Linked DNA regions of Homo sapiens. Changing the gene in region 3 together with the main gene of any one other region gives a genetic interaction. Each region holds a gene or a part of one and is shown on either strand. Other genes may lie near its edges.

Region 1 (3,500 bases), on a different chromosome or scaffold from region 3:
TATACTTATCAGTTAAGCATCCCCAGTTCTGAAATCTGAAATCCAGTTCTGAAATCTGAAATGCTCCAATGAGCATTTCCTTTGAGCAAAAAGTTTCAGATTTTGGAGCATTTTGGATTTGGGATGCTCAACCTGTGTAAATATTTGTTAATATATAATGTAAATAATTTTAAAAGATCTCAAACAACTTAATTTTGAAAATTACCATTTAATTATGCCAAGCAATTGGTCATTCTCCCTAATTTTCTAGTCCGCCTCTAATCTGTTCTCCTCAGTAAATAATAAAAAGATAGCACATTCATTTATTATAAAGCCCAAGTAGGTATAAGTTTAACTCATAACTGTTTGAAGAGTCAGACTTTATGTCTGAAATAATCACTTTATACAATGTGTGTGTGTGTTTTTTTTTTTAAAGGACTAGACTTAGAACCTTTCCCCATACTGTCAATGGTATACCTGGGGTAGTGCAGCATGCACATTTCAAGATTGTAAAGACTACTACCCGAATCCAAAATTGAGAGAGAACCTGTTTATATAAAACTCATTAGTGAACACTCTTCTTAACAGCTACAGAGGCTGCCAGTAGCTATGATGTCAATTCTCTACTTCATGCATCTGTAGGCTAAATGGAAAATTAAGATATGACTGAAGAGAAGCTCCTCTTCATATTCAGGTCTGCAACTTTTCTCTTTAAAAAGGAGAGAATTAAGATCAATGAATACCAATACTGGAGAACTTTACAACGTATGAATTAACTCCTACAGTTAAGGGGTCACTACTTATAACGTTGTATCAGTAAGTCACCTAACGATCTACTTGTATCATGTCTAGCAAACTTCACTGTCCCCATCTTACTTGCTTTCTCCATGACACCTGAATTTTCCTGATGCTTTCTTTCTCTTGACTTCAATGACATCTCCCATGTTTCACCTTTTTTCCCCTATTTCTATGGTTCCCTTTTCAGTCTTCCCAGATGCTGTGCTCTCCTTCTTTAATCTAACCTGTCAGATGGCAATATTTCTCATAGTTCTGACTTAGGCACTTGTCTTCTGTAACATACCTTGTGTGAAACACTCAAAAGCTTAAAAAAAAAAAAAAAAAAAAAGTCCCTGCATGAGGGTTTCCAGTATCTGTATCTTAGCCTCTGTTTTTCTTCCAGGCTCTGGATCTACTTTGTTAGATAGAAAGTTGAATATCTTCATCTCAGCATCCCACAGATACTTGCTCTGGCACTCTCTGTCTAGTCCAATCATAACCTCTATTCTTCTAGTACAGTATGTGATATATGAAGATCATAAATAATCAATGAATTCTACCAATGCCATAAATCCTAATTTCAAGCACCAAATTAAATTTGATACCTTTCCAAAGTTTGAGAAAAAAAGCTTCTGTAATTAAATATTTTTAGGTGCAGATTCATCTATTAAGATACATACAATAGTGGTAAACCTCTAAATTTATAGAGTTCTCTTATTTTAAAGTTATTTAGATAGTAGCTCATTTATCATCAATGACCTTGTCATGTTGGAGATGTAAAACTTTAGCTCCTCCTTTTGTTTGGTTGGATGGAAGAAATGAAGAACAGAGAGATAAGTGACTTGCCCAAGGCCACCCACTATGTCAGCCGGAAGGTCACCCAGGTTTCCCAACTTTCAGTCCAATCCTCTTTTTGCTATACTACGCTGTTGTTTAAAAGACATTCTATTAAGAACATGTGAGGCATTTGAATATATAAGGAGTCAAATTTTACAAATGCAATCAATATGAGACCATAAAAATAAAATGGATTTTTATCCCTTGCCCACATACAGTATCCTTTTCATTTTAACAAGTCCTAAAGAAGATATTATCCTTGTCCTCCGTATCATGATGTTACTACTTTGAAATAACCATCAACGAAGAGTCTAATATGTGCATACTATGTTAGATTTTTAAAAGATGTATGTACATCTAAGGCCAAACTAAAAATAACTCTTAAAACTTTGTTAAAGACACTCTTATTTTCCCAGTTTCCTAGTCTTGAAAGTTGTATGTAAAAGTGTTCAACAAGGCCTTACTAATACAATGCTCATAAACGTCAGCTGAATCTATTTTCTACTGAGTCCCAACTCAAATTACCAACTTTGAGCAATTTTATCTCCCAAGCCATTGCTCATGTTTACCTATTTCTTTCCATTTATTTAGCACCTTGGTCTGGACTTCATTACCTTAAGACTGCTGGAATAGCTTCCTATAAAGACTACCTTCTGATTTTTCCTTTTTTCAATCCATAGGATAGATATCCTGCTATAAAAATATAAAAAAGTCCCCTAAGATATTTATCTCATAACATCACGTCTTTGCTCAAAAATGTCAGTGCCTGCTTCCATTTGAAAATGCCTGATTTAGAATAGCTAGCATGATGTGCACATAGTTAACATTCAGTGTCAAAATATGAGCGCCCTTACTAACCTGAACCTGTCTTCTCAGTCTCCCCTACGCTCCCTACAAAATCTGTGTTTCAGCCCTTATTCTCTAAACATTCTCCCTCCTCTTTCATTCTTGTGCTTTCATCACAATGCTTGATACAAGATAAGCATGCAATAAATATTTACTCAGAGAATGAATAAGTGCCCAATGTTGGCTATTAAATTTTACCAATCCTTCAAGAAGTGAAGATTTTGTATATTTCTATAAAAGCTTTCTTGATCCTGCTAGTGAAGGAATATGATTCTTCCTCTCCTTCCCTTGCAACACTACAGCATTTTAATTGTACCTCCTTACGAGGAGTTAACCAACAGAGCAGACTATTACTAGTGTATTATTTTCATCCTGAGAATAGGGTCAGTTTTTTAAAAATATCCTTCTAACCCTTGTTGCACCCAGTAGACTGCCTTGCATATGAACACCAGTCAACTAATATGCCTCAAATAGTAGCAACAATAAAGCTTAGCTTGATTCTAAACTCACTGCTGGTTTTAGCACTCTGCAATTTTAAGTATTAGCAGAACTTAAATATTCCCTAATGATTATAGTAAATAATTTTGTTATAAAAGTCAGTGATAAGGTTTGGCAAACATTTAAAAAACCTGATTTACGCCGGGCGCGGTGGCTCACGCCTGTAATCCCAGCACTTTGGGAGGCCGAGGCAGGCGGATCACGAGGTCAGGAGATCGAGACCATCCTGACTAAAACGGTGAAACCCCGTCTCTACTAAAAATACAAAAAATTAGCCGGGCGTAGTGGCGGGCGCCTGTAGTCCCAGCTACTTGGGAGGCTGAGGCAGGAGAATGGCGTGAACCTGGGAGGCGGAGCTTGCAGTGAGCCGAGATCCCGCCACTGCACTCCAGCCTGGGCGACAGAGCGAGACTCCGTCTCAAAAAAAAAAAAAAAAAAAAAAAAAAAAAAAAAAAACAACCTGATTTACTTTTAATAAAGTTAGCTCTAGGACCAGAGCAGCTGCAGTTTAGATTGTAATTTCTTTCTTGGGTAACTGGAGATAGTTTACTGAAAGCAGACAA
Region 2 (4,295 bases), on a different chromosome or scaffold from region 3:
TCATGGGAGGAGATCAAAATATCCCTAACTGGATATTGGAAGAAATTGATTCCAATCTTTATGAACAACTAAGAAGGGTTCAAGATTTCAGATGAGGGAAGTAACAGCAGATGTGGTGGAAATAGCAAGAGAACTAGAATTAGAAGTGGAGCCTGATGATGTGACTGAATTGCCACAATCTCATGATAAAACTTGAACAGATGAGGGGTTACTTCCTATGGATGAAGAAAGTGGTTTTTTGAGACGGAATCTACTCCTGGTGAAGATGCTATGAACATTGTCAAAATGTTGGATAAAGGGCTCCAATTTTGAAAGACGTTATATAGTGGTTATTAAAATGCTATAAAACGGCATTGCATGTTGCAAAAAAATCTTTCGTAAAAGGAAGAGTCAATTCTTGCAGAAAATTTCATTATTGTCTTATTTTAAGAAATTGGCACAGTTACCCCAACCTTCAGCAACCACTACCTTGATCAGTCAGCAGCCATCACCATCAAGGCCAGACCCTCCACCAGCAAAAAGATTAGAAGTGGCCAGGTGCGGTGGCTCATGCCTGTAATCCCAGCACTTTGAGAGGCCAAGGCAGGTGGATTACCTGAGGTCAGGAGTTTGAGAATAGCCTAGCCAACATGGTGAAACCCCGTCTCTACTAAAAATACAAAAAAATTAGCCAGGCGTGGTGGCAGGCATCTGTAATCCAAGCTACTCGAGAGGCTGAGGCAGGAGAATCACTTGAACCCGGGAGGCGGAAGTTGCAGTGAGCCGAGATTGTGCCATTGCACTGGGCAGTCTGGGCAACAAGAGCAAAACTCCACCTCAAAAAAAAAAAAAAAAAAAAGATTAGGATTTACTGAAGGCTAAGGTAATCGTTACCATTTTTTGGGCAAGATGTTTTTTAAATTAAGATATATATACTGTTTTTTAGACACAATGCTACTGCACATTTAATAGACTACAGTATAAACAACTTTTATATGCACGGAGAAACCAAAAAAAAATTGCATGGCTTGCTTTATCGAGATATTTGCTGTATTGTGTTGGTCTAGAACCAAACCTGCAATCGCTATGGTATGTCTGTATCTAGCACATGATTATGCACATATAAAACCCAACTCCTTGATTCACAGGCCTCTGGATAGGAGATATGACATGCCCAAGGTCTCGCAGTTCATGTGAGGCAGGAAACTTAAGAGAGCCAGACTTCTTTAAGGAGACTGAAAGGTGATTCATTTAGTGAGTAGCGATTACAGAATTTCTAAAACAGTGGGGGCGGGGGGGGCGGCGGGGAGGAGGGCTGGAATTGTCCTCCAGCGCATACAAGGTTGTTGCTGCCAGAGAAATCCAGCAGGAAAGAGCAGCATTCTTTCACCTTTTCCGCCTCTGAAGCGGAGGAGAACTTCATTTCCCAGCAGCCCTTAAGATTCCTCCGCGCACTGCGCTAGCGTCCCGGCATTCTGCTTTCCGGCGCTCTGCCTTCCGGTGCGTCGTTTACGCCAGTTTGAACCAAAGACGCCCAAGGTTGAGGCCGAGTTCCAGAGCATGGGGTCTCGGTTGTCCCAGCCTTTTGAGTCCTATATCACTGCGCCTCCCGGTACCGCCGCCGCGCCCGCCAAACCTGCGCCCCCAGCTACACCCGGAGCGCCGACCTCCCCAGCAGAACACCGCCTGTTGAAGACCTGCTGGAGCTGTCGCGTGCTTTCTGGGTTGGGGCTGATGGGGGCGGGCGGGTACGTGTACTGGGTGGCACGGAAGCCCATGAAGATGGGATACCCCCCGAGTCCATGGACCATTACGCAGATGGTCATCGGCCTCAGTGAGAATCAAGGCACAGCACTTGGGCGGGTTGGGTATCTGCGGGGTAGAGGAAGGAAACGGAGCAGCCACGTGGGCGGGGAGGCGGGGAGGCGGGGTGCTGCCGCTGGTCAGGTGGTGGGGGCACCTCAAACAAGGTGGGAGAGGAAGTTGTTGGAACGCCTTTCTTTTTTTTTTTTTAATTTTAAGTTAGTATTTCTTGAGAACCCTTATTAGACTCAGCCCTTTTAATTCTCAGAATAGCTGTTAGAAGTAGGTATGATTATAGTATTTACTGTGGAGCAAACCGAGGCAACGAGGAGTATTGTGTTCATGGTCAGGAAATGACAGTCACTTGATCCCAGGTATATCAGATCTCAAAGCCCATACTTTTTCTCCAGGTCCTGGAGAAAGCCTGAGCGAGGGCCCTTGACCTTAATTTAAGAAATTTGCCTTGAATCCCAGATCTTTAGACGTGGATTCTAAGCTCACCTACTTGGTACACCTGGGTAATGTGGCCCACAGCCCCGTTCTGTGATCGTCAAGATGTCATCCAATCAAACGTCATGATTTTTTTAGCTTTCAAACCGATTGTCAGTGAATAGAATTTTAGGTTTCTAACTGTCTTACCTTCTTGATCCTGTATAGGTAAATTCTCCTACAGGATATTCTTTTTTTTCCTGATTTTTTTTTCTTTTTCTGTGCTTCACTTGCCTTATAAGAAAGATACAATGGTAATATATCCTCCAGAAGTGTTGTGAGGGTTAAATAAGATGGCGTATATGTGAAACACTTGGTAAATTTAAATGCAGCATAAAGGTAAGGTATTGTTGTTTTTTTTCTAGGCATTGCCACCTGGGGTATCGTTGTCATGGCAGACCCCAAAGGGAAGGCCTACCGCGTTGTTTGAAAGTACCACCAGTGAATCTGTCTTCTGTCTCTGTCCCTTTCCCCGTGACACACACAGCAGGCATGGAATTTAATGGGTGTTCTGGACAGACACTTGTACATGGACAGACATCACTACTGTGGATACTACAAGACTGAGAAGAAAATCGTATGTTGTCATTCTCTGGCTATGGAGTGTTTGTGGCCTTCACAGATTTCACAGGAACCAATAAATCCCTCAGAGAAGTAAACAGGTTCTTTGTCTTATCTGGGGAAGGAAAGTATAACTTATATTTAAATATAATTGCTTAATTAAGCATTATATATAAACATAATAGTATGTCTTATATAATTGCATGTCATATTATATATAATAAACATAAATATGTTTAGTTATATAGTTAGTATAATTTTTAAAACTTTTAAATACAGCATATGGTAAACCAACGGGAAAATTAGCTATTTTACTTCATTATTTTAAAGAGTTCTTTTTATTTCTTTCATAATTGGATCAACAACTGTTAACCTAACCCTGGGTGGGCATCATGCAATATATAGAAGTACGTGAAATTTTCTGTGTATGAATTGCTGATACTTTGCAAGGCATTTTCAAATCCATCACCTTATGAGAGCTTCACAGCTAGTCTGAGGTAGTTACTTCATTGGAGGTAAAACTTAAAACACAAGAAAGAGCCCACATGATTTGCCTAGGGTCATTCAGTAAGTCCGTGATGGAGCTAGAACTTGTTCTTGTCAGTTTTTTGTTCTAGTCTTCCCTTTCATGGAGGCAAGAATAACCATTATGAAACAGTTAGATAATCATAAAAATCAGCATACAATAAAAGACTTAAATGTCACAAGAAAAATTCAAAACCTTTAGCTAAAAAAAAAAAAGATCTTTTGATTCTTTTTCCACAAGCACTAGATATGTTTCTGTGATGATTTTGAGATAAGTACTCAAAATTACATAGTTCATTTCTAAGAGAAGGCCATGTTTTCTACCTATTGGGTTTTTCTACCCTGAGATACTATGGCTTCTTTGTAAAGGTATATAAAGTGTTTTTCAAAGCGGAAAGATACTGTTAAATTCAGCTGCTAATCATAGTGTATTTGTTTGGAATGACATGTTGAGCAGGTAGTACCTTTACGGCTGTTGCTTTTTGCAGCATTATGTGGAAGTGCCTAAGTCTATTTAGCCTCACAGATGACTTTAGAATCTTGTATTTTCTACATCAGAGTTCATAGCGGGGATGGTGCTACATATATCTATGCAACTGAAAAAGAAAACATTTCAAACCTAAAGTACGCAACAAGATATTATTTATATGAAATCCATAGCTCAGTTATGCTATGTTCATGAATAGAGAAGTTTTAAGTTGGAAGGGACCATGGATGACCCAAAGCAGATACATATGGTCATTCATATACCTAAAATACCTACAAAGACAAGTTGTTCCCTGGTTTAAAAGGCAGTCTGTTCTATTGATGGACTGCTTTAGTCCCTGAACATTTTCTTTGGTTAAACCAAAAACACATAAACCTAACTTGGTCTTGGCTTGATCTACTGGGTAAATAATAACTCTTAAATATATATACAGTTGACCCTTGGACAACAC
Region 3 (3,500 bases):
ATAGGCTGGGTGTGGTGGCTCATGCCTGTAATCCCAGCACTTTGGGAGGCCGAGGCAGGCGGATCACCAGGTCAGGGGATCGAGACCATCATGGCTAACGCAGTGAAACCCTGTCTCTACTAAAAATACAAAAATTAGCTGAGTGTGGCGGCGGGCGCCTGTAAGTCCCAGCTACTCAGGAGGCTGAGGCAGGAGAATGGCGTGAACCTGGGAGGCAGAGCTTGCAGTGAGCCGAGATCACGCCGCTGCACTCTAGCCTGGGCAACAGAACGAGACTCCGTCCCAAAAAAAAAAAAATAGAACTATATTACTTCATTCTTAAGTAGATGTAGACAAAAAGGCGTTTGTGTTCGTTTTTACCATTTGGGATTATAAATATGGTTTAGGGTAAGGGAAGCGTAATGGCTTTTGCTTTGGTAATTATGTGGATTTTTTTTTTTTTTGAGATGGAGTTTCACTCTTGGTGCCCGGGCTGGAGTGCAATGGCGTGATCTCGGCTCACTGCAACCTCTGCCTCCCGAGCTCAAGCAGTTCTCCTGCCTCAGCCTCCCAAGTGGCTGGGATTACAAGCAAGCACCATTGTGCCTGGCTAATTTTGTATTTTTAGTAGAGACAGGGTTTCTCCATGTTGGTCAGGCTGGTCTTGAACTCCCGACCTCAGGTGATGCACCCGACTCAGCCTCCCAAAGTGCTGGGATTATAGGTGTGAGCCACCTCGCCTGGCCATTATGATGGATAATTCTTTTTTTTTTTTTGAGACGGAGTCTTGCTCTTTCGCCCAGGCTGGAGTGCAGTGGTGCGATCTCGGCTCACTGCAAACTCCATCTCTAGCGTTCACGCCGTTCTCCTGCCTCAACCTCCCGAGTAGGTGGGACTACAGGCGGCTGCCACCACGCCTGGCTATTTTTTTTGTATTTTTAGTAGAGACGGGGTTTCACCGTGTTATCCAGGATGGTCCCGATCTCCTGAACTCATCATCCGCCCGCCTCGGCCTCTCAGAGTGCTGGGATTACAGGCGTGAGCCACTGTTCCCAGCCGTGGATAATTCTTATATGATAAATGGAATTTGCTTTTTTTCCTCCAAGAATGTGGATATACTGAAAGATCCTGAAACAGTCAAGCAGCTTGGTAGCATTTTGAAAACAAATGTGAGAGCCTGCAAAGCTGTTGGACACCCCTTTGTAATTCAGCTTGGAAGAATTTATTTAGATATGCTTAATGTATACAAGTGCCTCAGTGAAAATATTTCTGCAGCTATCCAAGCTAATGGTAGGTGATTCTGATTTCTTACACAATGCAGTATAAACAAACCACTTCTCTTCTACTGCCTTAAGTCAAACATTTGATGTTTTTTACAGATTTAAATCAGACCTCCCATTTCCCAAATGACCCTAGACATATTTAAAACAGTTAAGTGTACCTTTCCCTTTTAAAATTAGTCTTAAAGCTTATTTTCCCAATAAATTTTGTGAACTTTTGGCTTTAAACTTTTTAATGGTAAAATGGAATTGCATCTAATGTACACCTGAGTACCACTGTATAAGTTTAGTGGTAAAATTAGATTCCATTTGATTCTGTTTTGTAGGTGAAATGGTTACAAAGCAACCATTGATTAGAAGTATGCGAACTGTAAAAAGGGAAACTTTAAAGTTAATATCTGGTTGGGTGAGCCGATCCAATGATCCACAGATGGTAAGTGAGAGATGCTTTGCTTTTGATTTCTAGTGTTGATGCTGTGTTTTATGGAATATGCTATACTCTATTATGTGCATTTTGCTAATTTAAAGCATATCAACTTTGTGGTTATTTTATGGCATTTTATTTATTGTAGTCCTTACGTTAATATACTAATAGCTGTATTCCATCTTCAAAAGAAACTGCTGTTAATCAGTAGCGAAGGGTGGTGATATGTAACAAGATAGCTAAGAAAATTGGGTCATTTTATGTTTCCATAGATAGGTTAGGAGGATTTAATTAATGGAGTACCGGTGCAGTTTTTGCATTCCTCTTGATTTTTAGAACAATTGCTAGAGCTACAAAGTTGTCATTACTTTACCTCTTTAGCAAAGTGATTGCTTCCCAGATTAAAGGCCTGAAAGTCTTTTTTACACCCTTTTTCCTAAATGATTTGCAGAAAAGGAAATCATTTTCAGTAATAAAAACCAGCTGCGTATGCCTCAACTTGTAAAATTGTGAATTAGTTTTAGGTTTTAACTGTATCGTTTCATTCTTGTTATTCAATTGAGCCTTGGGAGAGTCCAAAAAATTCTAATACTACTATTACTTGGAATAGTGTTGGTTTTTTGTTTTTTGGTTTTTTTTTTTACAAGTGTGCTAGTTATTTTCATAGTTTTGAAATTTCAGTATTGTTTCTTGTTAAGGAAATACTTTTCAGTAAACTTGTTCTGAATATAATTCTTGTGGAATACTTAAGTTGGCTAACCTAAATATCGAAAGGTTCTGAACATGCGTATTATGTGAACAGAACTGTATTTAAAATTTGAAAGCAGAAAGTAAGATGTATTGAAGGAATTGTGATGTTTGTAATTTACAAGAAGCTTGAGCACGTGTCGGGAGCACAGTGGGAATAATACAAAGGGTATCATCTTTTGTAACATTAATGTTAAAGTTTGGGATATTTGTTCACATGAAACATTGTGTTTATTTTCCTTGTCTTGGCTTTTCACGGTGGCTCATGCCTGTAATCCCAGCACTTTGGGAGGCCGAGGCGGGTGGATCACTTGAAGTCAGGAGGCTGAGGCAGGAGAATCACTTGAACCCCAGAGGTGGAGGTGACAGTGAGCCAAGATTGCGCCATTGCACCCCAGTCTGGGCCACAAGTGGGAAACTTCGTCTCAAAAAAAAAAAAAGAACAAGAAGTTACTCTTTAAGTATAACTCAGTTTACTTAGAATCATGAAAATCTTACTGGGCATTGTAGCATGCACCTGTAATCCCAACCACCAGGGAGGGTAAGGCAGGCGAATCACCCCAGCTCAAGTCCAGTTTAGGCAACATGGCAAGATTCAGTTTCAAAAAAATAATAGAAATCCATAGTCTTTCTTATTTTCTGAGAGTAATTGATTGATGTTATTTCTGCTTGTGAAAATACTCACCAGTTAGCATTCATTAGATTAAAACATTAGTCTGAGTTGGGTGGATCACGAGGTCAGGAAATCAAGACCATCCTGGCTAACACGGTGAAACACCCCGTCTCTACTAAAAATATAAAAAATTAGCTGGGCGTGGTGGCAGGTGCCTGTACTCCCAGCTACTCGATAGGCTGAGGCAGGAGAATGGCGTGAACCTGGAGGCGGAGCTTGCAGTGAGCCAAGATGGCACCACTGCACTCCAGCCTGGGCGACAGAGCAAGACTCCGTCTCAAAAATAAAAAGACAGTATTGAGGGCTCGCTTGCTGCCATCTTACATATACAGTATACGTAGAATCCTGATTCTGCCACCTAAGTTGGAGACACCCACTGAATTTTGAGCCTCACTTT
Region 4 (4,273 bases), on a different chromosome or scaffold from region 3:
ACAGAGCGAGACTCCATCTCAAAAACCAAACAAACAACAACAAAAAACAAAAACACGGATGTAACATTACAACCATTGCTCATATTCCAGTCCTCAAGATCAACTATGGGCATGGATTTCTTAAGCAGTATCTTAGGATGGGTGATGTTATTACAGTTAAAAAAAAATCTTCTGATTTCTATTTGAGATGGTGATATCAGCCTGCAAAAAATGAACAACACTAAACTAGAATTTTAGACATATTTGGATGAAGTTTTACCATCCATGTATAAGAATCAACTCGGAGATGCCATATACCAAAGTCTATAAAACTATTTTACAAATTAACAGCTGCTAAAGAAAAACTTAGTAACTTTGAACTTTGTGTAATTAAGTGCAGGTTTGACACATGGTCTAATTTAATGACTTTTCACTTTCTGGACAACAGCCCTTTGTTCCCCCCTTTTTAAAAAATGGATTCACTACTTTTGATTTCTTACCTTTAACCACAAAGGAAAAATTGGTCACACTCATGGTTCTACTCTAACTGAATGCAGCTCACCACTGCTACACAACAGGATACAGATGCCTGACTTCAACGTAAGTCTTCCAGAACAACAACGTTTGATGACGGGTCTGCTCTTACCACCTTTGCTGTCCAGGCTGTCCTCTCAGCTTTCTCTGCAGGAAGTGAGGAGCAGGAAGGGATATTCCCTGCCAGTTGGTGCCTTTCTGTATCCATCCCCATGGGGTTTCATAGAACTTTTACAGAAAATTAAGAACAGCTAAACACTTCACTGATCCTGAATTATGACACCCTTTGCCATATAGGGTCCTCTCTGACAACTGTAACCACAGATATCATCCCTTTTCTGAACATCCATGTGGCCTGAAAGCCTCAATCTAACCTCTGAATACGTACTAAGCTGAGATGGGAGCTGATAGCTCCTCCCTGCCAAACACTGTATTTTTTTTTTTTTAAGACGGAGTCTTGCTCTGTCGCCCAGGCTGGAGTGCAGTGGCGCGATCTCGGCTCACTGCAAGCTCCGCCTCCCGGGTTCAGGCCATTCTCCTGCCTCAGCCTCCCGAGTAGCTGGGACTACAGGCGCCCGCAACCACGCCCAGCTAATTTTTTGTATTTTTAGTAGAGACGGGGTTTCACCGGCTTAGCCAGGATGGTCTTGATCTCCTGACCTCGTGATCCGCCCGCCTCGGCCACCCAAAGTGCTGGGATTACAGGCGTGAGCCACCGCGCCTGGCCCAAACACTGTATTTTTGAAAGTGAGACACCTGCTCAGTGCTGAGGAGAGAAAGGATCTGCTTGAGGTCCCAGAACTTCTTGGTAGCCACCCCATTCATCCTCCCAAACAGTTCCCTCTCATCTTTTATATCAAGTCTGAAGCTGTAGGAGCTGCAAAGCCTCCTCATTTACCTGCATCCTCCCTGGGCACCTATAACAATGCCTAGAACACTGAAGCAGATCAGTAAAAGGGGGATGGACAAAGAAGGGAGAATCCAAAGGCACCCAAGTCAAAATCTAGAAGTCAACGCAGAAGAGGGACTAGGACTGTGAGAAATGTGCAGGGAAAAAGCTATGGGGGCGCAGAAAAGAGTTGCCTACGGAGCAGCTAAGTGCCCAGGCTCTGGAGTGAAGCAGAGCTAGGCTTTTTCGTTCAGGCAGTCAACAAATACTCATTGAGGGCCTTCTTGGTGCAGGCAATTGTTATGCGCAGGGGATAGATAGGCTGAGCAACACAAAATAGGCCCTGTTCACATGAGGAGAAGAAAACATGTAAACACCTTTAATTTCAACTAGTGACAAAAGACACTAAAGAGAAAAAACCCAGAGTTTGTGTTACAAAGGGTGTGTGGGGGGATGGGGGGTGCAATTTTAGACAGCATAGCCAAGGAAAAGCGTCTTTGAGAACGCAGTATTTACGACTGAGACTCAGATGGCCTTGGACTATGGATGGCCAGCTGTGTGACCTTGGGCACTCAACCTCTCAGAGCCCCAGTTTTCTCATGTGGATTATAGAGCCAACACCCAGTACCTCGCAGGGCCGGAAGAGTGTAAAAGTATATGGACCTAAGTCACCTGGCACGCACTTAGTAGACTGTTTATTGTCATTCTGGGCAGGTTAGAGACCTGTGACAGACGTGAAAGTTCAGGAGAAAAGCGTGAAAATGCAAGGTCCCTGTAGGACCAACTACTACTCCAAGAATCTACTTCCTTGCACATCACCTCCCTACTGGATTGCGAGTTCTAGGGCAGGAACCAGGTGGTCTCCCCTCCGACCCCCAGCACCAGGAGGCAAAGCCGAGAGCGCGGAGCGCTGGGCCAGGCACTGGGCCACCTGGCTGCCGCTGCCCCCGAGGCAGCCATCTTGGTGTCCCCGGAGCGAGTTCGCCACGCAGGCGCCGAAGACAGCGCGGCCAGGCGCGCGGGGACGCGGCGGAGGGCCCTTCCCACCGGGGACGAGGCCCACGGGATGCTGGGCCTCGGGATGCTGGAAGCGTGGTGTTGTCCGGCCGCAGGATGCCAGGGATCCCCAGGTGCAGGGACCCCCCCCCCGGCCCGAGGCATCCCCGGCCCGCAAAGGGGCTTCCGACCTCCGAGCCCGGGGTCTCCCCGCAGCCGGCCCGCGGGTGCACGGCCCGAGCCTGCCCAAGCCTGCGCGCCTCCGCCGGGCCCCCTGCGCGTTTCCCCACCCACCTGGCTGGGCCTGCCGCCCGCGACTCACCGCTTCCCCCGGGCTGCCGCCCGCGCTGCTCGCAGGTCCCGCTCAGTGCAGCCTCCGCCGCCACCGGAAACGCTTCTCCCGCCACGGCGTCCTCGCGCGTCCCCGGAGCGCGTCCTCGCGCGCGCCTGTGAGCGCGCGTCCGGGCCCGGGAGCTACGAGGCCCAGGGACCCGCCCTCCGGGTCCAGGCCCGGGTCCAGGCCCCGCCCCGCGCCCGCGACTCCGCTTCTGGCTTAGCGACCGCGCCCCGGGTCCAAGAGGAACTCCAAGCCCATCCTCACGGTGGTGTGGGGCTCTGCGCGGGCTGGGGCCACTATGTTCCATTTGGGTTTCCCTTAAGGGACTGCTTCTTTATCATTTCTTTATTCCCAGGGCCTTGGCGTAGCCAGCATCCGTTCACGCAGTCATTTACCCAATTAAAGTGTGGAGCTTGGCAAGACTGGCGCTACAAGGCGATTTTAGGACTTTAGTGCCACGACCTGATTTATGTCTTAAACAACAACAACAACAACGGCGCACTCTGTCTTCTTTATGGAGAACAGACTGCGTGGGAGGGGATGTGGAGGCAGAGAGGCTGTTTAGCCAGATGCTGTGGTTATCCAGGAGAGGAATCATGGTATTTTGGACCAGGTGGGTAACCTGGGCATATTTAAAGGGCAAATGAAATCTAATAAATGGTGAATTACATCATAAATTGCATAGGAAGATTCCATTTTTAAAGATGTAAATTCTCTCCCAAATGACCTATGACAATAAAAAAAAATTCGACAACACTAGTGTGCTTGGTGGAGTGTGTGTTATAACTGCACAAGCGGACTGCAAAATGTACATGAAAAAAATAAAGAGCCAGAAACAGCCAAACAAGCTTTTAAGAAAAGAGCAAGGCAGAGTGACTTGTCCTGCAGATACAAAACTTGTTATAAAACAATGGTAAATAACAAAGGTGGTGTGTTTGCTCCGGGGTCAACAAAGAGCCTCGCGGAGCCAAATAGAGTTGCCATCCATGTAGAAACCTGCACATGTAGAAACCTGCTGTGAGTTGGCATCACAGGTCAGGGGACAAAGGTTAGATATTCATTAAACAGTACTGGGATAGCCAAATCCCTACTTGTATAATACATGAAACTCAACTCCAGGTGGATTAATGATCCAAACGTGAAAAACAAAACTTCTAAAACTTAAGCAATATGTCACAGATATTTTGAGTGCTATTCCTCATCCTCCAAATTCCTATGAATGTTTAACTAGCTTTTTCTCTGTACCATACCCTGTGCCAAGTGCTGGGCTCAAAAAGATATATAAAAGATCGCCCCTTCTTGGCTGGGCACTGTGGCTCATGCCTATAATCTTAGCACTTTGGGAGGCCGGAGTGGGTGGATCACCTGAGCTAAGAAGTTTAAGCCTGGACAACATGGTAAAACCCCATCTCTACCAGAAATACAAAAAATTACCTGGGCATGGTGGCGTATGGTCCCAGCTACTCAGGAGGCTGAGGTAGCAGGATTGCTGGAGCCTGGGATGTGGAGGTTGCAGTCGGCTGAGATTGTGCCACTGC

The links. A genetic interaction does not mean that the proteins touch.
Region 1: changes in XPO1 (region 3) and NAMPT together harm fitness more than expected from each alone (negative genetic interaction), as found in Homo sapiens cells (one large-scale study listed by BioGRID).
Region 2: changes in XPO1 (region 3) and DMAC1 together harm fitness more than expected from each alone (negative genetic interaction), as found in Homo sapiens cells (one large-scale study listed by BioGRID).
Region 4: changes in XPO1 (region 3) and SFXN1 together harm fitness more than expected from each alone (negative genetic interaction), as found in Homo sapiens cells (one large-scale study listed by BioGRID).

Annotation. Positions count from the first base shown.
Region 1 is NC_000007.14:106,264,484-106,267,983, forward strand, and holds part of NAMPT (nicotinamide phosphoribosyltransferase precursor), read right to left. Parts: intron 689-3,500; coding exon of another isoform or gene 670-688; exon of another isoform or gene 1-669.
Region 2 is NC_000009.12:7,796,979-7,801,273, reverse strand, and holds the start of DMAC1 (distal membrane-arm assembly complex protein 1), read left to right. Parts: upstream 1-1,495; 5' UTR 1,496-1,539; coding exon 1,540-1,813; coding exon of another isoform or gene 1,814-1,825; intron 1,826-2,636; coding exon 2,637-2,701; coding exon of another isoform or gene 2,702-2,838; 3' UTR 2,839-4,295. UniProt on the Homo sapiens protein: Required for the assembly of the mitochondrial NADH:ubiquinone oxidoreductase complex (complex I). Involved in the assembly of the distal region of complex I.
Region 3 is NC_000002.12:61,486,357-61,489,856, reverse strand, and holds part of XPO1 (exportin-1), read left to right. Parts: intron 1-1,085; coding exon 1,086-1,269; intron 1,270-1,585; coding exon 1,586-1,692; intron 1,693-3,500. UniProt on the Homo sapiens protein: Mediates the nuclear export of cellular proteins (cargos) bearing a leucine-rich nuclear export signal (NES) and of RNAs.
Region 4 is NC_000005.10:175,477,087-175,481,359, reverse strand, and holds the start of SFXN1 (sideroflexin-1), read right to left. Parts: upstream 2,801-4,273; 5' UTR 2,721-2,800; exon of another isoform or gene 2,693-2,720; intron 1-2,692. UniProt on the Homo sapiens protein: Amino acid transporter importing serine, an essential substrate of the mitochondrial branch of the one-carbon pathway, into mitochondria.